2 separate regions of the Homo sapiens genome follow, and region 1 is linked to region 2. Evidence: fine-mapped expression QTL. A gene starts in region 2. The other region holds a variant in brackets. All regions are shown on one strand. Distances are between the middles of the regions. Region 1 overlaps MAP4K2 (mitogen-activated protein kinase kinase kinase kinase 2). Region 2 holds the start of PYGM (glycogen phosphorylase, muscle associated).

What was found. PIP is the estimated chance that this variant, and not a neighbour inherited with it, causes the effect.
Region 1: its variant is fine-mapped to the expression of PYGM in hippocampus (GTEx, PIP 0.95).

The regions. Positions count from the first base shown.
Region 1 is chr11:64,780,622-64,795,683 of GRCh38, forward strand. It overlaps MAP4K2 (mitogen-activated protein kinase kinase kinase kinase 2), which reads right to left. Exons shown (of 32, transcript NM_004579.5): 25 at 11,743-11,801; 26 at 11,551-11,654; 27 at 11,288-11,465; 28 at 9,773-9,841; 29 at 9,567-9,653; 30 at 9,268-9,338; 31 at 9,109-9,164; 32 at 4,297-9,003. The coding sequence ends at 8,916. Among named protein-coding and RNA genes, the nearest start is that of SF1, 9.6 kb to the left of the region's middle. RefSeq lists an enhancer at 9,388-9,889. The variant T/C (reference allele first, on the strand shown) is at 11,805.
Region 2 is chr11:64,756,549-64,764,692 of GRCh38, forward strand. It overlaps PYGM (glycogen phosphorylase, muscle associated), which reads right to left and starts at 3,426. Exons shown (of 20, transcript NM_005609.4): 1 at 3,108-3,426; 2 at 2,055-2,156; 3 at 1,889-1,967; 4 at 1,698-1,801; 5 at 1,231-1,362. The coding sequence starts at 3,350. SF1 (splicing factor 1) reads right to left here. Exons shown (of 13, transcript NM_004630.4): 13 at 8,058-8,144. RefSeq lists enhancers at 1,427-2,131, 2,132-2,835, 2,836-3,540, 3,541-4,243, 5,580-5,629 and 5 more.

The sequences.
Region 1 (15,062 bases), 28 kb after region 2:
ACCCCCACAACACTTGAAACCTGGAGAGAGAGGTGACTGTGATCTCAGCCATGTATGGTTATAATTTTTTCTGAGATAATAAATTAGACCTGCTTGTTTTTCTTGTTCTGTACAATTATTGGAGAGAATTAAACATGGGACAAAAACCTGCTGCCTTCTTAATGACCCTTCTTATAGATAACTTCCCTTTTGTTGTCCTGCTTTACTTAGACCAGATGACAGCAAACCCATGACTATTACACCCTCTGTAAAAAATGTTAAATGTATGCCTCCCAAAAAGAAACACTGCTTACAACCAAATTATTTATTATTATTATTTCAATTTGAGACAGAGTCTGGCTCTGTCGCCCAGGCTGGAGTGCAATGGCACAATCTCGGCTCACTGCACCCTCTGCCTCCCAGATTCAAGCGATTCTCCCACCTCAGCCTCCTGAGTAGCCGGGATTACAGCCACCTGCCATCATGCCCAGCTAATTGTTACATTTTTGTAAAGATGGAATTTCACCATGTTGGCCAGGCTGGTCTTGAACTCCTGACCTCAGGTGATCTGCCCGCCTCGGCCTCCCAAAGTGCTGGGATTACAGGAGTGGACCACTGCACTCGGCCTATAACCAAATTACTGTAAGTACGCACTGACCATATATGAAGAATGTAATCCTAAAACTCCTCTGCCTTTGTGTGTGTAAATGAAACCTTAACTTCTCTACTTCGAAACACTGACTCCATTCATTTGGAGTCGGTGTTTCCAGGTAGTCCACCCTCATGTTTTGTGCTTGAATAAACTATTGAAATTAGATTCTGACCCTTTTGATTACTTTAGGTGGACAGGTTTGAATGTGTCCCCCAAAGCTCATGTGTTAGAAACTTAATCTCCATCCAGGCGCGGTGGCTCCAACACTTTGGGAGGCCGAGGTGGGTGGATCACCTGAGGTCAGGAGTTCGAGACCAGCCTGGCCAACATGAATCTCCTGCCTCAGCCTCCCAAGTAGTTGGGATTACAGGTGCCGCCACTATGCCTGGCTAATTTTTTGTATTTTTAATAGAGACAGGGTTTCACCATGTTGGCCAGGCTGGTCTCGAACTCCTTACCTCAGGTGATCCACCCACCTTGGCCTCCCAAACTGCTGGGATTATAGGCGTGAGCCACCGTGCCCAGCCAGAAATCTCTATTCTTTATAAATTACCCAGACTGGGTGTGGTGGCTAATGCCTGTAATCCCAGCACTTTGAGAGTCTGAGGTGGGAGGATCTCTTGAGCTCAGAAGTTTGTGACCAGCCTGGGCAACATCTACTAAAAAAATAAAAAATAAAAAAAAAATGCTGGTCATGGTGGTCCATGTCTATAGTCCCAGCTACACAAGAGGCTGAAGCAGGAGGATTACTTGAGCCCAGGAGATCAAGGCTGCAATGAGCTATGATCACGCCACTGCAATCCAGCCTGAGCAACAGAGCAAGACCCTGTCTCAAATAAATAAATTACCCAGTCTCAGGGATTCTGTTATAGCAGTACCACCTTAGACTGTGCTGAGTTTGTGCGACTGAGACTAGCTAATTTATTTACCAGTATTTAGACACTGCCTATAAGGGAAATACAAATTAAGGTGATAATGAGGAATCTCAAAATAAATGAAAATAGCAGAACATAAATGTGCTAACACCTACTATCGTTAATCTTTTAGAAAGCATTCTGTTGTCTATTAAAATTGTTCCCCCTTTCAAAAAATAAAAAAATATGCACCTGTACTCACAGCTACTTGTGAAGCTGAGGTGGGAGGATCCCTTGAGCCCAGGAGGTAAAGGCAGAAGTGAGCTGTGATTGGGCGACAGAGTGAGACTCTGTCTCAAAAGAAAGAAAACATAAACCCTTTCGATCCAATATCCCACTCCTGGGAATCTGCCCCCAAACAAGCCATGTGATTATATAATGTTTTCAAAGTCTTCTGCATTTACTGCAGCATTGTTTGTAGTGGTAAAAATGGGCAAACAGAGTGAATTTCCATCAATATATGAACGACTGAATTGGAAAACCCATAACCTAGAATATTAGGCAGCTTTGAAAAGCTGTTAATTCATACCAACCAACCTAAAGTAACTACTGTTCTGTGTTAACAAAGAAATACATATGACATGGCTTTGTTTTTGTAACACAAACCCCATACAGATGTGTGCATGTTTGCATATGATTATCTGAGCATAACAAAGGCTACAGAAGGATACACAGCACATGCTCTATTGCAGAGTGAAATGGGCGGCTGGAAGTTGCCCAACACATCTTAAACATCCAACTTTTTTTTTTTTTTTTCTTATGAGATGGAGTCTTGCTCTGTCACCCAGACCAGAGTGCAGTGGCATGATCTTGGCTCACTGCAACCTCCTCCTCCTGGGTTCAAGCGATTCTCGTGACTCAGCCTCCAGAGTAGCTCGGATTACAGGCATGCGCCACCATGCTTGGCTAATTTTTGTATTTTTAGTAGAGACGGGGTTTCACCATGTTGGCCAGGCTGGTCTCAAACTCCTGATCTCAAGTGATTCGCCCGCCTCAGCCTCCCAAAGTGCTGGGATTACAGGCGTGAGCCACCAAACCCAGCCTAAAAATCCAAAGTTAAAAAAAAAATGCTTCATACGCTTAACAAATGTATTACATGATTCCATTTTTGCAACATTATATAACTATAGGCATTGAGAAATGCACCAAGGGCTGGGTGCAGTGGCTCACACTTGTAATCTCAGCACTTTGGGAAGGCAAGGCAGGAGGATTGCTTGAGGCCAGGAGTTCGAAACCAGCCTGGGCAACATAGGGAGAATGTCTCTACAGAAACAAAAATAATAATAATCAGCTGAGCGTGATGTGTGCCTGTAGTTCCAGCTACTTGGGAGGCTGAGGCAGGAGGATTGTTTGACCCCAAAGAGTTTGAGGCTGCAATAAGCTGTGATCACACCACTGCACTGAAGCCTGAGTGACAGAGGGAGACCCTGTCTCAAAAAAAAAAAAAAAAAAAAAAAAAAAAGGCTGGGTGCGGTGGCTCACACCTGTAATCCCAGCACTTTGGGAGGCCGAGGCAGGCAGATCATGAGGTCAGGAGATTGAGACCATCCTGGCTAACACGGTGAAACCCCATCTCTACTAAAAATACAAAAAAAAAAATAGCTGAGTGTGGTGGCAGGTGCCTGTAGTCCCAGCTACTCAGGAGGCTGAGGCAGGAGAATGGCGTGAACCCGGGAGGCAGAGCTTGCAGTGAGCTGAGATCACGCCACTGTACTCCAGCCTGGGCAACAGAGCGAGACTCCGTCTCAAAAAATAAAAAATAAAAAATACATTGAGGTGGCTCACATCTATAATCCCAACTACTCAGAAGGCTGAAGTGGGATCACTCAAGGCCAGGAATTCAAGACCAGCCTGGGCAACATGGGTAGACCTCTGTCTCTACAAAAAATAAAAAATTAGTTGGGTATGGTAGTGTGAGCCTGTAGTCTCAGCTACTCATGAGGACTGAGGTGGGAGGATGGCTTGAGCCCCAGAGGCAGGGGTGGCAGTGAGTGGAGGTGACACCACTGCACTCCAGCCTGGGTGACAGAATGAGAACCCATCTCAAAAAACAAAAAAAGGCTGGGCACAGTATTTCACACCTGTAATCGCAACACTTTTGGAGGCCAAGGCAGGCAGATCACTTGAGACCAGGAGTTCAAAACCAGCCTGTCCAACATGGAGAAACCCCATCTCTACTAAAAAGACAAAAATTAGCCGGGTGTACTGGTGCACACCTGAAGTCCTAGCTACTCAGGAGGCTGAGGCAGGAGAATCACCTGAACCCGTGAGGCAGAGGTTGCAGTGAGCCGAGATCGCATCACTGCACTCCAGTCAGGGCAACAGAGCAAGACTCCAATCTCAAAAGAAAAAGAAAAACAGAAAAAGATGCGGCCGGGCGCAGTGGCTCACACCTGTAATCCCAGCACTTTGGGAGGCCGAGGCAGGCAGATCACCTGAGGTCAGGAGTTCAAGACCAGTCTGCCCAACATGGCAAAACCCCATCTCTACTCAAAATACAAAAATTAGCCAGGCATGCCTGTAATCCCAGCTACTCAGGCGGCTGAGGCAGGAAAATCACTTGAACCCAGGAAGGCGGAGGTTGTAGTGAGCCAAGATCAGGCCACTGCACTCCAGCCTAGGTGACAGAGTGAGACTCCGTCTCAAAAAAAAAAAAAAAAATTAAACGACACTTAACTGTGAGTCAGCCCTTCCACTCCAAACTATTTACCCACAAGAAATGATAGAATATATCCAACAAAGACAGGTACATGAATGTTTATAGCAGCTTTATTTGTAATAGTTCACAACGGAACATGGTCCAAATGTCCATCAACAGGTGAACAGCTAACCAAACTGGTGCATCCAAACAATGGAATACTACTTGGCAATAAAAAGGAATAAAATATTAATGCATGCAACAGGGATGACTCGCAAATCCTTATGCTCAGCTAAGCAAGAAGCCAGACAAAACACAAGTACATACTGTGTGATTCTATTTACATACATTCTAGAAAGTGCAGATTAACCTGTAGTGACAGAAAGCAGCACAGTTGTTACTTGGGGATGGGAGGCAAGAAGCAGGAGGGTGGGCTTACCAAGGGCATGGGAAACTTTCCAGAGTGAAGGGGATGGTGATTATCTTGATTGTGGAAATAGCTTCACGGGTGTACACGTATGTCAAAAGTCATCACGTACACATTTTTATATGCAGCTTATTGTATGCCAATTATGCCTCAATAAAACTGTCTTTCAACAATACACACTAGAAGGCAGCAACTGCAAAGTGGCAATTCCAGAGTTCTGTGCAGGACGCTGCAGTGATTCCGCCCCACTTGTTTTCACCATCTAGGGAAACGTCCTCTTCGTTTTTGGTCTTGTCTTTCAAGCGAGTTCTATTTTTTCGGTGATTACTTTTAAATATTTTTTAAAAATTTTTTTCCTTTTTTTTTTTTTCTTTTTGAGACAGGTTCTCACTCTGTCACCCAGGCTGGAGTGCAGTGGCAAGTTCATAGCTCACTGCAGCCTTGAACTCCTAGGCTCAAGCAATCCTCCCACCTTAGCCTCCAGAGTAGCTGGGACTGCAGGCGAGTGCCACCATGTCCAGCTAATTTGTGTATCTTTTGTAGAGACAGGGTTTTGTCATGTTGCCCAGGCTGGTCTAGAACTCCTGGGTTCAAGTGATCTGCCTGCCTCAGTTTCCCAAAGTGCTGGGATTACAGACATGAACCACCATGCCCAAACTAAAATTTTATGACATAATATTTGATACATACAAAAGGATGTGTGGCACCTTATGTGAGTTAGGAACTGAGTTATAACTTAAATACCCATGAACCTACCACCAAACCTGAGAGCTAAGATATTACCAATACCTTTAAAAATTCCTGGGCTCCTTCCTTATCCCATCCCACACTCCTCTCAGGGACGACCATCTCAGATTTTGTGCTTTTCCTTCCCATGATTTTTTAATAGGGTTGTATCTTGGGCATGTATTGCTAAACAATAGATGGTTTCATTTTGTTTTTGAGCTTTATAATATGCTATCGTACTGTGCATAAAGTGCTGTTTTAATTTACCTCTAAGAGTCATCTATGTTATTGCATTATGTCTGTTACAGTATTTCTGATCCTCCTGACAGCCCTGCAGTTGGCTTTGGATATGGTAAACCTAAGGAAAGTAAAGCTCAGCGAGCTGGGGTGGCTCACCCAGTCCAAGGGCAGATTGCAGGGACTCCTCTTCACCACATCTTGTCCATTCCCTTACTCGTGAGGGTCTCCTGAGCACTGGTAGTGAGCAGGTGCTGGACATGCCACAGGGAACACGGCAGATCCTCCGCCGTCCCGAAGCACACATCATGGTGCTCCCCTTGACTTTCACCAGGATGACTCCGGGTATGGGCCAGTTACCTGAACATCCTGGGGGGGCCCACGTCCCTTCTACTTGTCCTCAAGAATGACTTAAAGAGTCTGGTCTGACCCTCCCACAGGTTTCTGCCCATGGAGGGGCAACTGGACAGCAGCTATCACCACGGCATATGTAGCCACCGCTAACTCATTAATGCTGCTTCCAGGAACTTATCTTCTAGAAGTGCTTGAATATGTACAGAGGGGCACTAGCCTAATAATATTTATTGCAGCATTGTTTGTAATATAAAAGTAGTAAAAACAACTCAAATTTCCACCAATAGGGATCTCACTGCAGGTCATTAACATTTGTTATGGGAAACATACACAATGGAATACCACTAGCTGTAAAAAAAAAAAAATTTTTTTTTAAAGGGAGATCTTTAACGCAAAACTCTCCAGGATATATACATATCTTTTCAGGGTGCATGTGATAATTTAATACATTCATATTCTCCAGGATATATATATATTTTTTTCTCTTTTTTTTTTTTTTGAGACGGAGTCTTGCACTGTCGCCCAGGCTGGAGTGCAGTGGCATGTTCTAGGCTCACTGCAACCTCCGCCTCCCAGGTTCAAGCGATTCTCCTGCCTCAGCCTCCCGAGTAGCTGGGATTACAGGCACTCGCCACCATGCCCAGCTAATTTTTTGTATTTTTAGTAGAGACGGGGTTTCACCATGTTGGCCAGGCTGGTCTCGAACCCCTGACCTCGTGATTCGCCCGCCTCGGCCTCCCAAAGTGCTTGGATTACAGGTGTGAGCCACCACACCTGGCCCCCCAGGATATATTTTTAAAGGGCAAGGTCAGTACAGTATGTGGAATATGTTAATACGTATATAAAAAATCGCCAAGAATAAAATATACCAAATTGCTTAAATACGCAAAATACTTCTAGAAGGGTTCATAAGTAACTGAGACCAGGGTGGCTGGGGACGGGGTAAGAGGGAGACTTCATTATATCTCTGCTGTATTTAAAAAAATATGTACCATGGGCAAAGGTTACGCATTTAAAAATACATAAATAAAATTTAAAGTGTTAGTCTCTCAGTGCATATTCCCTGGTTTCTCGGCCTTTCTTTGCTCTTGGCCTGCCTTTGCTGGCAGCAAGCGTTTTATGGGAGGCCCCCACTTTGGCAGTTTACACTCTGCAGTCCAAACCCCGTTTCCAGACTGAATCTGAGGTCCGGGAAGATCCGCCACAAGGAGGCACTGTCTGCTGCTGGCCGGTTGGTGAACGGAAAGCCAGTCCTCCCCAGGGCGCCTTTGGTCAGGGCCTTTGCTGAGCAGGAGCTCACCTCCCTGTCCCCACTTACCCCACCCTGGTCCCAACATTCCTCCGAGAAATCTGGAAAATTGGAAGTTAGGAATTCACTTTGTATCCCTGTTACCACCGACCCCAATTTGGAAGGTGCCCCTCACCCTCCTTGGGGCTCACGGGAACATGGGTGTGAATGCCTGGTGTGAAGAGATGTGTTCCCTCCCCTGGGCTGGCTCCCCATTCCAGCCAAGAAACCCTCCCAGTCACTGGACAGAGTCAGAACAGTTGAAACTCTGCTGGAGGGTGGCTGAGGGGACAGTGTGACACCCTGGGAACCACTGAGCCTACTCGCATGGCTGCCATCCACCTACCACGTCACTCCGCAAGTCTTTATTGCCACCCACCAGGTGCAAAGGTCTTCCTCCAACACCTGCCTTGAATGTAGGGGTGACCATGGGGCCTTTGCTCCAGCTGTTCCCCCCACCCTGCCCCCACCTTCCCAGCCCCCCAGCTGTGGGCCCTCAAGGCAGTTCCCATCCTGCCTCCTGGGCTGCAGCTGCCCAAAGGCTCCAGTCAAGAGCGGCTGATCAGTGCCTGGGGCAAAAGAGGATGCCCAGCCCTGGGGGCCCTGGCATTCAGAGCTGAGCAGACAGACCCTTGGAGAATGACAGCGTAAGCACAAGCTACAGGAGAATGGCCATGCCCTCAAGATGCAGGCTCCAGCAAGGAGGACGCCCTCCCTGGGGGCTGGTCTGTTTCTGGTAGTGACCCCAGGGCCTGGCACTGAGGCAGCCCTTGGGAGTCTGGTAGACGGACACAGGCTAGCCTTCCCATCCAATCTGATGATCGTGCTGTCATCTGATGTTCCTGGTCTAACACCTAGGCAGTAGGTGGAGGCAGGGGATACAGGTCACACAGGCTACCTCCATGGGCAGCAGCCTCCATGGGAATGGAGGGAACAGCCCTCTGGGGGCTCCTCCTGGGCCCTTCCAGGGGTCACCCAGTGAGATCCTACGTGGGGCAAGGGTGCCCTGGATGAGAGTCCCTTTGTTGAGGTCCCCCCATCTGCATGAGTCCTTGGGGTGCTAAACTACAGCAGAGCCCTCAAACTGCAAAGCTGAGGGTCAGTTCTGAGCAAGGATGCAGGGGAAGGCACAGTGCCCCTAGAAGGCTGCTGGGGGCCATGGCCTCCTGTCACCTCTACCTGGCTTCTCCAAAACCCTGGGGGCCCTGCCCTTCTGTGGTGCCCACAGAAACGTGTGTTGGAGGGAAGGAGGCGGGAGATGAGGTGGGTTCACTCCCCCTACCCAGAGGGACCAGAGGACTAAAACAAACCAGCTTTAATACCAATATAGTTCTCTCTTAAATACCGTGTTTCCCAGGACAAATGCAGGGGCAGGCTCTTGGCAGAAAGAGTAGAAAGGAAATGTGGAACAAAATGGAATGGATGGCCCAGGCCCAGGGTCCCTGCCTTGGGCACTAGGGACTGGGCTGCCTCGGGGATGGGGGAGTGACAGCAGCTCCCCCTGGTCCAGTTATTGCAGAGGCGTCGGGGGCTCCCCTCCCTCCCCAGGCCTGAAACATTTCTCAGGATTACTTCTGACCTTCAGCCCCAGCAGGGCCAGGGCCTGGGCTCCTCTGGTCTAGGATGGGCCCCTTTGCCCAAAAGGGCCTGCAGCTAAGGCGTGGGGTGGGGCGGGGAGCCCCTGGACAGGCCCGCTGCTCTTAGTAGGTGCTCTGGTGGCCCGTGAGGATGTAGAGGTTGCTGTGCGCCTCTGGGTTGTCAGTGGGAATGCTCTCCAGGATGATGTCTCTGGAGGAGAGAGGAGTAGGGGGCAGGGCGGGAGACACTTGGTACATCAGCCCCTTCTCTGGCCTCAGGGGCATCTGAAGGGGAGGCTAGGGTACCACCGCCTACCTGTGGGCCCCAAGCACTCGGAAGATCCTTGTTTCATCTGTGATCTCCTGGGTCACCTGGGAAGACAGGTGGGAAGCACTGAGGCCACTCCAGTAGGTCCTTTCCAAAGAGGTAGGGACCACAAGGCAGGGGACAGCAAGGTCCCTGGGCCCCACTCACCTCATTGGTATCCAGGCTTCGGCCTTGCATCCCATGGCTCCAGAAGGCCAGCACACTGTCCTGCAGGCACACTATGGGGGCCAGGCCACCATCAGCCCTGCACCCATCTTGGCACCCCCTCAGCCACGCCTGAGCCTGGGTCTGGGCCACAGGGGTCCTCACTGACCTCAGGTGACCAGGATGGCTCAGGAGAGGGGCTAGGGGATCTGCCTCCTCATCCTACCGCCAGCCCCAGGCCCCTGAGCAACAACGTGCTCCAGGCCAGGGAAAGGCCTGCACCCCACCTCTGGCTCACTCACCCACAGTCTCGATGGGGAAATCAAAGGTCAGCTCAGGTGCCAGTGTGGCCGTGGGCTCGCCCTGCATGTTGACAATCCTCACACAGCCTGCACAGGGAAGGAATTGGTGAGTGGGGACGGGGAGGCTCCCTTCTGGGAAGGCAGACCCACGTGGTCGCCTTACCTCCATAGTCCCCTGCCCTAAGCCCTGCCCCCAGGGCACTCACGTTCAAAGCTGACTAGGATTGTGTCCCTGTCCACCTGGATCACCTGCTGGGCCGAGCCTGGGATCCCCTCTGCAGGCAGAGAAGAGAGACATGGCCTGGCTGAGCCACCAGTCCCCCAACCCCAAGAGGATACGGGGGCCAGGCTACAGACAGCCCTTGGCCATGAGGGCACGTCAGCCTCACAACAGCCCTGTGGGGCTGGGAAACCTCATCTCCCTCCAGGGCTGGGAACTGAGGCTCTGAGAGGATGAGTGACCCGTCCTAGGGCTCATGGGGAGTGGAGGAGGAGTCACGGGGAGCCACGGGAGGGCTCCAGGTTTAAGGGGACCAGGCCTCGTGACCCAGTCACTGTGTGACCTGGTACAAATCACTTTACCTCTCGGAGCCTCTGTTTCCTCATAACACAGACAAGATGGCACTGCCTTGAGAGGCTATCATGAGGATCAGGAATAAAATCCTGGGCTGGGCGCAGTGGCTCACACCTGTAATCCCAGCACTGTGGGAGGCCGAAGCGGGTGGATCACCTGAGATCAGGTGTTGGAGACCAGCCTGGCCAACATGGCGAAACCCCATTTCTACTAATAATACAAAACGTAGCCGGACGTGGTGGCACATGCTTGTAATCCCAGCTACTCGGGAGGCTGAGGCAAGAGAATAGCTTGAACCCACGAGGCAGAGGTTGCAGTGAGCCGAGATCGTGCCATTGCACTCCAGCCTGGGCAACAGAGCAAGACTCTGTCTCAAAAAATAAAAAAATAAATAAAGAATAAAATCCTGTGTGTGAGACCCCTGGCTCAGGGCCTGGCACCAGGTGCCTTAACTACGTGCGCCCTCCTTTCTCCCTTACCCATCACTGCTCATTATCACCCCAAGCTGCCACAACACCTGGAGTCCTGCTTCCTGGCTGAGAATGGGGCCTCTAGGCCCTGCCTTGCCAGATCTGCCTCTTCCCTGCAGCCCGGAGCAATGTTGACCAGTTTTTGTTTTTGTTTTTGTTTTTTGTTTTGAGATAGGGTCTCACTCTGTCACCCAGGCTGGAGTGCAGTGGCGCGAACATGGCTCACAACTGCCTCTGTCTCCCAGGCTCAAGTGATCCTCCCACCTCAGCCCAAGTAGCTGGGACTACACACGTGCATCAACATGCCCAGCTAATTTTTTGTAGAGTCAGGGTCTCGCCATGTTGTCCAGGCTGGTCTCAAACTCATGAGCTCAAGCCCCTCTCTCTCCTTGGCCTCCCAAAATGCTGGGATTACAGGCGTGAGCCACTGTGCCCGGCCTGGCCAGGATTTTCTTAGCTGCCAAGCCCTTCCGTCTAATGAACCCTTTTATGGAAGCCCAGGTGAAGCTTGTTGAAGGGAGGCTGTGGGCCCCAGACCCCACATGGCAGCCCTCAAGGTCTCTGTGGAGCCACTGGCTGTGGGGAGCCTAGTTTGGGAGCCTTGGCCCTCCCTGCCTCCCTCCCTCGGTCTCTCATGCACACACACCCACCCCCAGCAGCCTGGCCCTTCTGCTCACCAGGTGGGATGAGGATGTCGGGCGTCAGGCCAGCCTCCAGGGGCAGGACATGGAACAGGACGCGGCAGCCGGGCCCCTCAGGCCCCTCGGCCCCAACACACACCTGCGGCAGCTCCTTCCCATCCAGCACCAGCGGCTCCAGCATCCCAGCTGGGCTGGGCAGAGGGCTGGAGAAGTTCTAGGGGGCAGCAGGGATGCTCAGGTCTCCATTTCTCCCCCCAGAGCTCTGAGGGTGCCCTGGGCCTCCCCCCACCGCCCCTCACCTTCAGCAGCAGAAACTTCTGCAGCGGCTCATACCACTGCAGCAGGAGCAGGCTGGTGGGCAGGGCGGCCAGCAGGAAGGTGGCACCCGTGTAGGGGTTCCGCACTGGCAGGGGAGCAGGCAGTGGGCACCGGGCTGGGCCTGCGCTGCCCCCCACCAGGCCCCGCCCCACCCCGCCCAGCCCATTTCTTACCCACACGACACTGCAAGCAGCCTTTGGTGTCAGGAATCTTGGTGGACAGAGCAAAGCGCCTG[T/C]AGGGGTGATAACCAGGGCCTGTGTCTGGGATGCCATCCATGGGCAAGGCCCCTGCAGAGCCCTATGAGGTGGGCACTATCAGCTTCCCTCTTTACAAGTAAGGGACTGAGACTCAGAGACACAGAGTAACTTGCCCCAAGAACAGCTGGGAAAGGTGGAGGATCTGAAGCCAGTCTCCCAGCCCTGAAGCCAGGAGGGAGTGTCTCCATCCAGGCCAGGGGTTTGGGTCTCAGGATTGCTTCTAGCTCTGTGTGACTCCAGGCAAGCCACTTAATCTCTCCATGCCTCAGTTTCGTCATCTGTAGATTGGGGATAATGGCGGGCCCCACCCCAGAGAGTCACAGTGAAGGCTTCATGAGTTAATACAGGGGAGGTGCTCTCGGCAGTGCTGGGAATCGTGTGTGCTCACAGAGGGCCAGCTCCTATCATCCCATATTAGGACTTTCCACCTATTTTGAGTCACTGAAAGTCCTTGTCAGGTAAAGGCAGGGTATAAAGAAAGAAATGATGCCAGGTGCAACGGCTCACGCCTGTAATCCCAGCACTCTGGGAGGTCGAGGTAGGCAGATCACCCGAGGTCGGGAGTTCGAGACCAGCCTGACCAACATAGAGAAACCCTGTCTCTACTAAAAATACAAAATTAGCCAGGCGTGGTGGCGCGTGCCTGTAATCCCAGCTACTTGGGAGGCTGAGGCAGGAGAATTGCTTGAACCCAGGAGGCGGAGGTTGCAGTGAGCCGAGATTGTGCCATCGGACTCCAGCCCGGGCAATGAGAGTGAAACTCGGTCTCAAAAAAAAAGAAAAAGAAAAAAGGAATGAAGAAATGAGAGCATGGAGGGGCTGGGGAGGATGCAGGCTCCAGCCCCACCAGGTTGCACAGACTGCACACGGCCCATTTCACAGATGGGAAAACAGGCCCGGGGCAGTGAATGAACTTCAAAAGGCAAATGGCCTGCCCTCTGCTTCTCCAGCAGAGGCAACAGCCCTGTGGGGCCAGGGGGTGGCTTGCCTTGCTGTCGGGGTAGAAGTAGTGAGGAAAAGTTATCAGAGGGGCCGTTGCCTTGGCCACTGAGTGTCCCCTAACCCTCCAGGGGACCCTCTCAGCCTGTTTCTTCCTCTGGGGAATGGGGCTTCCTGTCAGCAGCCCTGCCACCTCCACCCAGTGGCCCATGTCCTGTTTGTACCTTCTGCCAGGACATGGAGGAAGCCAATGTCTGTCTCTCACTGTCCCTGGTCCTCGTCCCTCCCTCTCCCCACATTCCTCCCACTCTCCTCCCCATCTGGTCTTTGGATGGGACAAAAGCATATATTTTGTATTTGTTTTTTCTCCAAACAACTCCAGTTCTCTGTTCTTTGCATTCAAAGTGCTCACTGTGCCTCTGCCATTTCCCGAACACAAGCTCAAAGCTGCCTGTGACCTGTTGGGGCTCTGATGGGCCTGTTTCCTGTAGGTCCTGCGCCAAAGCAGACTCACTTGGGGACTGAGCTCAGGAAGCCCCAAGGCCACCGGGCTCCAGATGTGGTCCTGGAGTGAGCACGTTGCAGGAAGGGGGCTCCTGAGCTCCCCAGCTGTTGCAGCCACTGGCCTGGCCTCCCCTACCCTCTGCACTCAGTCCACTGCTTCCCACACCACCCACCTGGTCATGACAATGTCGGGGGCCCATAGCCCAGGGCCCCTCCCTTCAGAGCCCAGCCCCACCAAGCCATGGACTGACGCAGGTCCCACTTGCACATCTAATAAGCATGTTCATGCAACAAAATTGAATTCAGCTCCCCCTGAAACTGCTCCACCTTCAGCTGATGACAGCTGCATTCTTCCTGACACCCAGGCCAAAAACCTTGGAGCCATCCTTGACTCCTCTTTCTCTTTCATCAGGAAATCCTACTGGCTCAACTTGCAAAAGAGAATCAGAATCTGACTGTTTTTCTCTTCTGTTTTTCTTTTTTTTTTGAGACGGAGTCTTGCTCTGTTGCCCAGGCTGGAGTGCAATGGTGCGATCTCGGCTCATTGCAACCTCCGCCTCCCAGGTTCAAGCTATTCTCCTGCCTCAGCCTCCCGAGTAGCTGGGATTACAGGCGCCCGCCACCATGCCCGGCTAATTTTTGTATTTTTACTAGGGACGGGGTTTCGCCATGTTGACCAGGCTGGTCTCGAACTCCTGACTCAGTTGATCCACTCGCCAAAGCCTCCCAAAGTGCGGGATTACAGGCGTGAGCCACTGTGCCTGGCCCCCAGGCAAACTCTTAACAGCTCCCCAGCTCACCAGGCTGCTCCGCCCCAACACATACTAACATATACTTGCTCTTCCCCCTGCCTGGAGTGCCATTCCCTACCTCACCTGCCTAGAAACCCTGACACACTTTCGAACCTCCCAAGCTTGCCCGGTCTCTGAGGCCTCTCCACACCTCCCAGCTCTCCCTCTAACTGGACCTCAGTACCGGCTGCTAACTGTCCACATTTCCCTTTTTCTTTTTTTTGAGACAAGGTCTTGCTCTGTTGCCCAGGCTTCAATGCAGTGGTACGATCGCGATCACAGTTCACTTCAACCTCAACCTCCTGGGTTCAAGCAATCCTCCCACCTCAGCCTCCTGAGTGGCTGGGACCACCAACACACAACGCCATGCCTACATCACCATGCTCAGCTAAGTTTTCGATTTTTTTTTTTTTTTTTTTTGAGATGCAGTCTCACTCTGTCGCCCTGGCTGGAGTGCAGTGGTGCAATCTCCACTCACTGCAACCTCTGCCTCTAGGGTTCAAGTGATTCTTCTGCCTCAGCCTCCCGAGTAGCTGGGACTACAGGTGCGCACCACTACACCCAGCTAATTTTTGTATTTTCAGTAGAGACGGGGTTTCACCATATTAGCCAGGCTGGTCGTAAACTCCTGACCTCATGATCCGCCCACCTCGGCCTCTCAAAGTGCTAGGATTATAGGCCTGAGCCACTGCGCCTGGCCCCATTTTTTGATTTTTTGGGCTTTTTTTCTTTCTTTTTTGAGACAGACTCTTGCTGTCGGCCAGGCTGGAGTGCAGTGGCGTGATCCCGGCTCACTGCAACCTCTGCCTCTCAGGTTCAAGCGATTCTCCTGTCTCAGCCTCCCGAGTAGCTGGGACTACAGGCATGTGCCACCACGCCCGGCTAATTTTTTTTGTATTTTTAGTACAGACGGGGTTTCACTATGTTAGCCAGGATAGTCTCCATCTCCTGACCTCGTGATCCATCCGCCTTGGCCTCCCAAAGTGCTGGGATTACAGGCGT
Region 2 (8,144 bases):
CAAGCGATTCTCTGGCTTCAGCCTCCTGAGTGGCTGGGATTACAGGCACGTGCCACCATGCCCGGCTAATGTTTTTGTGTTTTTAGTAGAGACTGGGTTTCACCATATTGGTCAGGCTAGTCTTGAACTCCTGACCTCAGGTGATCCACCTGCCTTGGCCTCCCAAAGTGCTGAGATTACAGGTGTAAGTCACCACGCCCGGCCTAAACTGGGATTTGTACACCTGGTTTGGTTTTAAGGTTTTCAGTTTTTGGTCTTTTTGCTTTTTGAAACAGTCTCACTCTGTCACACAGGCTGGCTGGAGTGCAGTTGTACAATCATAGCTCACTGCAGCCTTTAAATCCTGGACTCAAGTGATCCTCCCACTGAAGCCTCAGAGTAGCTGGGACTACAGGCATGCACCAGCACCCTGGCTAATTTTTTAAATTTTTTTTTTGAGACGAGGTCTGGCTCTGTCACCCAGGCTCCTGGGCTCAAGCAGTTCTCCCACTTCAGCCACCCGAGTAGCTGGGACTACAGGCGCACACCATCACGCCTGGCTAATTTTTGTATTTTTTGTAGACGGGGTTTCGCCCTCTTGTCCAGGCTGGTCTCGAACTCCTGAGCTCAAGCAATCTGCTCACCTTGGCCTCCCAAAGTGCTGGGATTACAGGTATGACCCACTGCCCCAGTCTATTTTTTTTATTTTTTGTAGAGACAGGGTCTCTCTATGTTGCCCAGGCTGGTCTTGAAATCCTGAACTCAAGCCATACTGTCACCTCGGCCTTCTAAAGTGCTGGGATTACGGGCATGAGCCACTGTGTCTAGATTTGGTTTGGTTTTAGGATCCCTCTAACTTGCTGTGTGATGAGTGAATTCCTTTCGGAAGGCTCCAGTTTTCTCCTGTCCCCCTTTCTGGGCTGCTGCTGTCGAGATGTTCAGGGCAGACTCAAGTCGCCAAGATGGTCCTTTGATAAATCTCATGGTGTGGAGTGGAGCCAGGTCATGGGGAGACACTGGGGGAGCAGGGCAGCCTCTCTCCCCTTCCAGACTCTGCACTTAGGCTGGCTCCCCTGTGTCCCTGTCTCCAGTCTCTCCTGGCTTCAGCTGTGTGACTTTGAGTAAGTCACTTAACCTCTCTGAGCCTCAGCATCCTCAGGTGTAAAATACACTGGGTCCTGCTTCCTCTCTGGGCTTCCTTCTCTTCCCTCCCCTTCTCTGGGCTCCCCTGACCCCCAGCTTCATCCTCACCTGTGTGTCCACCCACTTGGCACCCTGGCTGGTGTGCTCCACATGGCCGTAGAAGTGCACAGGTAGCGTGAACTCGGGCCGGGCCTTCTCCCAGGGGTTGCCGTAGCGAAGCCAGTCATCGGCCTCCTCCATCTGCACCCAAGGCAGGTCAGGGAGAAAGGCCAGCAGTATCAGTACAGGCACTCACAGTGCACGGTGGGGCAGGGTGGGGGCCGTGGGCCGGTGTACCCTACACCAAGTATAAGTCAGGAGCTCTGAGGTGGGCCCCTGGTCTGCTGGGCTATCGAGTGGGACACGGACCACCTGTTTCAGGGGCACCAGCTGGCTTTGGGTCGGGGGGTGGGGAGCAGCAAGGATGCTTTCCACAGAGCTTGCGGGGCTGTTTCGGACCTTGCCAGAGATGATAAACAAGTGGGGGTCTTCCCCATCCTGACTAGACCCCACAAGTTAGAGCCAAGGCTGCTCACCTGCCAGCCCCCGGAGATCTTCTGGTTAAAAATCCCAAACTCATAGCGAATCCCGTAGCCATAGGCGGCCAGGCCCAGTGTTGCCATGGAGTCAAGAAAGCAGGCTGGGGGTGTGCAGGGAGGTGGCTGTCAGGGACCCAGCAAGGAGGACCCCATCGGCCCACTCCACCCTCACGGCCCTGTCTTCTTACCTGCCAGCCGGCCCAGGCCCCCGTTGCCCAGCCCCGCATCCTCCTCAATTTCCTCCAGCTCCTCCATGTCCAGGCCCAGCTGGAGGAGTGAGGGTGACAGTGGTCAGGGTCAAGTGTCAGCAGTGGAATCCCCCAGTCCCCACGGCTTGCCCCACCCCACACACACCTGGTAGGTGGCCTCGTCACAGGCATTCTCTAAGGCCAGGTTCACCATGGTGTTCTGTAGCGTCCGTCCCATATAGAACTCTAAAGACAGGTAGTAGATCCTCTGCCCAGAGAGACGGATGGGCAGGGAATGGGGTCAGGGCCACACACCAACACTCAGCCAGGCCCAGCCACGCCTGGACCTCTGGCCCGCCTGCCCTGCTCAGCAGTCCCATCCCTGTCCCCAATTTGTTTCTCCCTGTCTCAGGCTTTGGGGCCCAGCGGTTAAGGTTCTGGTCCCAGCATTCCTCTGACTTTGGACAAATCACTCTCTTTGGCCTCAGTCTCCTCATCTGGGAAATAGCGCTGGCCATACCCACTTCAGGGACTGAGGTACTCGGGAGAATGGGCACCCCTTCCCCCTGCACACACCCCCAGAGAAAAAAGTCATTTGCTCAAGGTCACACAGTGGCTAGAGACTGGGCTAGAGACTGTCACCTCCCATCCTTGCACTGTCCAGTTCCCCTTGGCCCTCAAGCCTCAATCCCAAGGAGACCCAGAGGCACCAGAAACTAGGATGCTGCCAGTGCCTGGTCTCCCAGTTTCCTGGGTCCCCTCCTGGGCCGTCTGCCCGCCCCTCCCCCACTCCCCACCGAGGCGTGTCAGGTTGCTGACATTTACCAGTGACCCCACCGGACACTTGATCTCTGCCGCCCCAGCTGCCCCAGCCCCGCCTGCTGCACAGGCACACCGCGCATACATGCAGCAACTGATGTGTCCTTCCACCTGGGCCCAGCCAGGCCACAGGCGCCGTCCTGCCCACCAGCACCCACTCCAACCTTCTCCGAGTGGGCACTGACCCTTTGCAGCCAGCCCACCTGCTCTGAGCTCCCTGACCCCCACTCCTGCCCCAGGTTTCTCCCTCAGATTGTCCCAGCACCCCTTGTGCCTGGCACCCCTGGATTCTCCACCCCCAAGAACCTAGAGTGACGAGGGGCAGCCACTTAAGTCAAGATCGCCAGCTCCCTGGCAGCGCCTTCAGCCCATACCCCCACCCCAGGCTCCCCAGCAGCACCTTGGGGTCCTTCTCATAGTAGTGCTGCTGCGTGCGGATCCAGCGCCCCACGAGGTGGTCGCGCACGGTATGGGCCAGAGCAAAGTAGTAGTCTCGTGGGGTGGCCACATTGCGGTCCTTTACGAGTGTGAAATGCAGGTGCCGGTTGAAGTTCTTTTTCAGCTCAGTCACGTTCTCCACGCCGGCCAGGCCACGCACACTGATTTGCTTTCTTTTCTCTTGGTCTGACAGGGGCCGGGACATGGCTGCAGGAGGGCGGGCCGGACTGGACTGATGGTAGAGGGGACGGCGGCCTCAGCACTGCCTCCAGCCAAGGAGTGGAGCTCCCCAGCCTCAAGGGGATTTAAAGCCTGGCTCTGGGCAGCACGCCCCGCCTCCCCTGCAATGGGAGGGTCTTGGCCTGGCAGCTCAGGGAGCTATTTTGAGGGCAAGGGGAGGAGAGGAGAGGGGAGGGAGAGGTGAGCTCCACTTGGGCCGCCAAGACTGGCCTGGCTTGTTCACAGGCCTGTGCTGACCCACTTCCTCCAGGCCTTGCACATGGTCTTCTGTCCCTTGTCCCTGCCTTTTGGAGGGTTGGATACAAGAAGGAGCAGGCAGAGTGCTGGATTGGGGAGCTGTCTGTCAGTGGCTGAACCAGGATGGGAGGCCATGTGTTGTGGCAAAAGGAACCAGGACCCCCTGCAGGCTGTGGTGCAGGAGCCAAGTCAGTGTCCCCTGACGGAAGAGGTGCAACTAGCAGAGGCCACTGGATGTCTTTGAGAAAGGGGCCCACGACCCTGCATTGCAGGGGTGGTGTGAGGGAGGTTGTGTGAGGCAGGGCCACAGCCCTCACTCCACCCCCACCGAAGCTGAGCAGCTCTAGGCTCCCCCTGTTGCTGTCCCTCAAGGAGCCCTGAAGTGACCTTTTGGAGAGGGATGCTCAGGTTACTGGCCAGCATTGGCGGGAGGCCGCTAGCCTGCAGCACGGGGCCCTGGGAACTGTAGTCCTATAGGCCCTCGGCGGTGGGAGAAACTGAGGCATTCCCCACTCCATCATCATACTGGTTTAATGACAGTAAGTTCTCCCTGTGATTCCACTGCTTAGGAAGTGATTAGAGGCCTTCTTTCACTTCTTCCTGCCACCTGGGGCCACACTCTGAGCAGGATTTTGTAAACCAGCTCTGTGACCTGGCCTATAAAATGGGTGCCTAATCTGTACCTCGAGGACCTCACCCCATTTGTGTGCATAGCCCCACAGCTTTGAGCCCTTCCCTGGAGGCTTTGGCTATCCTCCCATTCACTGCTGTGTTCTGGCCCCAGCACTGACTTGCTGTGTGACCTCAAGCTGGTTGCTTTACCTTTCTGAGCTTTGGATTCCTTCACCAAATTTAGACTCTCCAATGAGAAAAAAAAAAATCCCTGCCTCTCAGCTGCTGCCTCCTCATCTTGTGAGGGCAGGCTTCGGATCCTGCTGTTCTTTAAGAGAAAGGAACCAGGACCTTGTGCTAGTTCAAAGGCTGTTTGGGCCTCCCGGGTGGTGGGCCGGTGGAGGGGAAGAGCTGGGTGTTCTGTTCTGAAGGCCAAGGAAGCAGGTCAAAAGCCTGGACAGCTGCAGGATACTATTGAGAGCCTGGTTCGGAGAAAGCCAAGCTGTTTCTGAGAACTTTTTTTTTTTTTTTTTTGAGGTAGAGTTTCATTCTTGTCGCCCAGGCTAGAGTGCAATGGCATGATCTCAGCTCACTGCAACCTCCGCCTCCTGGGCTCAAGCAATTCTGCCTCAGCCTCCTGAGTAGCTGGGATTACAGGCACCCACCACCATGCCCAGCTAAGTTTTGTATTTTTAGTAGAGACGGGGTTTCACCATGTTGGACCAGGCTGGTCTGGAACTCCTGACCTGAGGTGATCCGCCCACCTTGGCCTCCCAAAATGCTGGGATTACAGGCATGAGCCACAGCGCCCGGCCTCCGATCACTTTCTGAGCCATGGCAGACCCAGCCCTGGAATCACCGGCTTAGTATGTGGGCCAAACTTCAAGTCCTACAGAGGTCTCCAGGCTCCCAAGCCCTGCTCTACCCCTGCCCCCAAAAGGCACGGGCACACTGTCTTCTGTGGTGCCTGCCACATTTCCAAGTAGAGAAAAAAGATCGGGAAAAAAACACCAAAATACACCTCCACAGACACGGGGATGCAAACAACTTTTCCTTACATTTTTCTGTTAATTTCCAATTTCTCTTAAGAAGTGTTTCATAAACCATTAAAAAACAATGCTGGCCGGGCGCGGTGGCTCACGCCTGTAATCCTAGCACTTTGAGGCCGAGGTGGGTGGATCACCTGAGGTCAGGAGTTCGAGACCAGCCTGATCAACATGGCGAAACCCCGTCTCTACTAAAAATACAAATATTAGCCAAGCATGGTGGCACATGCCTGTAATCCTAGCTACTCGGGAGGCTGAGGCAGGAGAATCACTTGAGCCCGGGAGGCAGAGGTTGCAGTGAGCCGAGATCACGCCACTGCACACCAGCCTGGGCGACACAGCGAGACTCTGTCTCAAAAACAAACAAAAAAACAATGCTGGCAGCTGTCTGGTCTCTTCCCCTTTCACAGTTTGCACCCCAGCCTCAGCTCCTGGGCCTCATCCCCATCCTCCACTAAGCACAGCTTGGACTCCAGCTTGGCCTGGCATCCAAGGTTCTTCACAGCCCGCACTTGTCCCTTGGAGGGTTGCTGTGAGTAGAGCTGAGACTTCTTGGCAGTCCACTGCCAGGCAGGCAGTAGCTTGTTAACCATGCCGTCACCTCACAGCCCAATCGTGGCAGCCTGCTTTGGCCACACACACCTTCTTTGCATTGACCCCTATTTCCTGCAAGACTTTATGTTCCTGCCACTGAGGACCCGATCCCCATAGACCATCCACATCTTACAGGCAGGGAAGGCCAAGTTCATTCCATCCTTTCCCAGCTACTCTCCCCTCTTGCACCCAGGGCGCTTGCTCTCAGGAACATTTTTACTGGGAAATTTTTAACTTTCTCCAACTACCTTTTCTGTGGCTTCTTTCCGTCTTTGTCATGCCATCACTCCCCACTGTTTCCAGGCTTTGTCCCGGGGTGACACTGCATGCCCCAGCCCAGCATGATCACACCTGGGCAGCACGATCTCATCTGTTTCCCTGCTTCCTCCGCCCCTCCTTGGTGTTGTGTATGCAGGTTTAATGAACCCTGAAGCACTTTTACAACCTGAACTCACTCGAGGTTATTTATGTCTAAGTTTCTAACTAGAAACCCGGCCTCCTTCCTTGGACCAATCCTGGGTTTCTCCAGAGCCCTTGGCTGAACCTCAGTAACAGAGCCCTGAGGCTGACCTTTCCCCACTGGCATTCCTCTTGCCAGGCCTTGCCAGGCCTTGAGGGACGGGGACAGTGCTGCTACAGCAGCAGAAATGAACGTGAGGAGAGGGGGTGGGGCAAGCACAGCCCTGTCACAATGTGATGGAGTAAATGGCTTGCTTTCCCACCCCAGGTGTCTTAAGACAGGTGGGCAGGCCTTTCTCTCTCTGATTCTGCCAGAGGCAAGTGCTTGCCACGGTTCAGAGGGCCAAGCCTTCCTGCTGTCTCTTCCATTTCAGGGCCTCTAGCACCTTGGAGACTGATGCCTTAGTCAGCCACTTCCTCTCCAAAACCTTAACAAAAGCTGACGGCAGGGAGCAGAAAGGGAGGGAGCACAGGAATGGAGCTGGCCTGGGGGAGAGAAGCGGAGGAGATAGCTAAGCTGTGGTTAAGTCATTTATTGATTTTATTTCTAAAACCCACATAGCGCCACTTTGCCGCTTCCAGAGCTTCAAAGAGCTAATTAACCACCCAATGAGCCCACCAGGGAAACCAAGCTTGTGGGAGAAGCAATGAGGTGAAGCCAAGGTCAAAGAGGGTAGCCAGGCCCCAGGCCCTGCCCCCATTCTGCCACTTAAGGACAAAGGCAAAAAAGATGTCCTCCTTTTGGTGAGCCGAAGTTTAGGGCTTGGCTGGGGAAACGCACTGAGCCTGCCTTGCTTCTGAGGGCTCCTCAAGCCTGGCAGACCCATAGCAAAGCACAGGCCTCCTGGACGGGGGACCAGACACCCCAGTAAACAGCAGTAGCCAGCCCTAGCTCACAGCTGGAAAGCAGCCCAGGCCAGTTGCTGGCCCCAGCAGCCAGATGCTGGGGGAGCCTACTGTCCCTCAGCCGCCCTGAAGGAAGGAGAGGCAGGTGGAACCAGGGCAGCTCTAAGGCACCTCTGCCCAGGAGAGGACCTCACTACCTGGTGGAGACTCCACATGGATTTTTCTGGAACCCTAACAGTAACTACCCACTCGCCGCCCAAGACATGGAAAAAAAGCAGAAGACCCTTTGAAAAGTGCTTGCAAAGCACAAGATGGGGCACTTTATCCTGTCCCCCCGACCCCCGCCAAAGCCTACAGCGCTGGCAGGCTGCAAGTCACCAGCAGAGAAGGAAAAAAGCCACTTGGCGGTTTTAATTTTAGCTGCTCTGTGCCTGACAGGCAGGATTAGTTGGCTTGACCTTTAGTGTTGATGCCTCCCCAGGCCCAGGGCCTTAGGTGGCAGCTTCCAGGCACAAATCACCACTGGAGCTCATCAAACGTGGACGTCTGAGCCCCAGGAAAAAGCCTTCAAAGGACAGAGACTAGAAAAATGAGCAGTGAACAAGGAGGGGCAAAATTGGTTCTCAGCGATGTTAACTAGTCACCAAAGGGGAGACTGTGGAGCCACCCACACACTGAGCTCCCACCACCAAAGCCACACACAGGAGGCAGGTGGTGGGCTTCCCTAATTAACCACCCACAGTCTCACCCCCCCGGACCTGGTGCTGAACGAAAGTTAAGGCACCTTTGGTGCTGCTGCTGCTGCTGGTGGTAGAGGAAGTTTATGTGAAAAGAAAAACCGGGCGGGGCAGGCATTAAAAAGAAAATAAAGAAGCAGACCCAGAAAACCACACTGCTCTTTTATTCAATGGAACATCCCCGCTTTAGCGCAGTGTTGAATCTAACACCGAAAAAAGCCCAGAGAA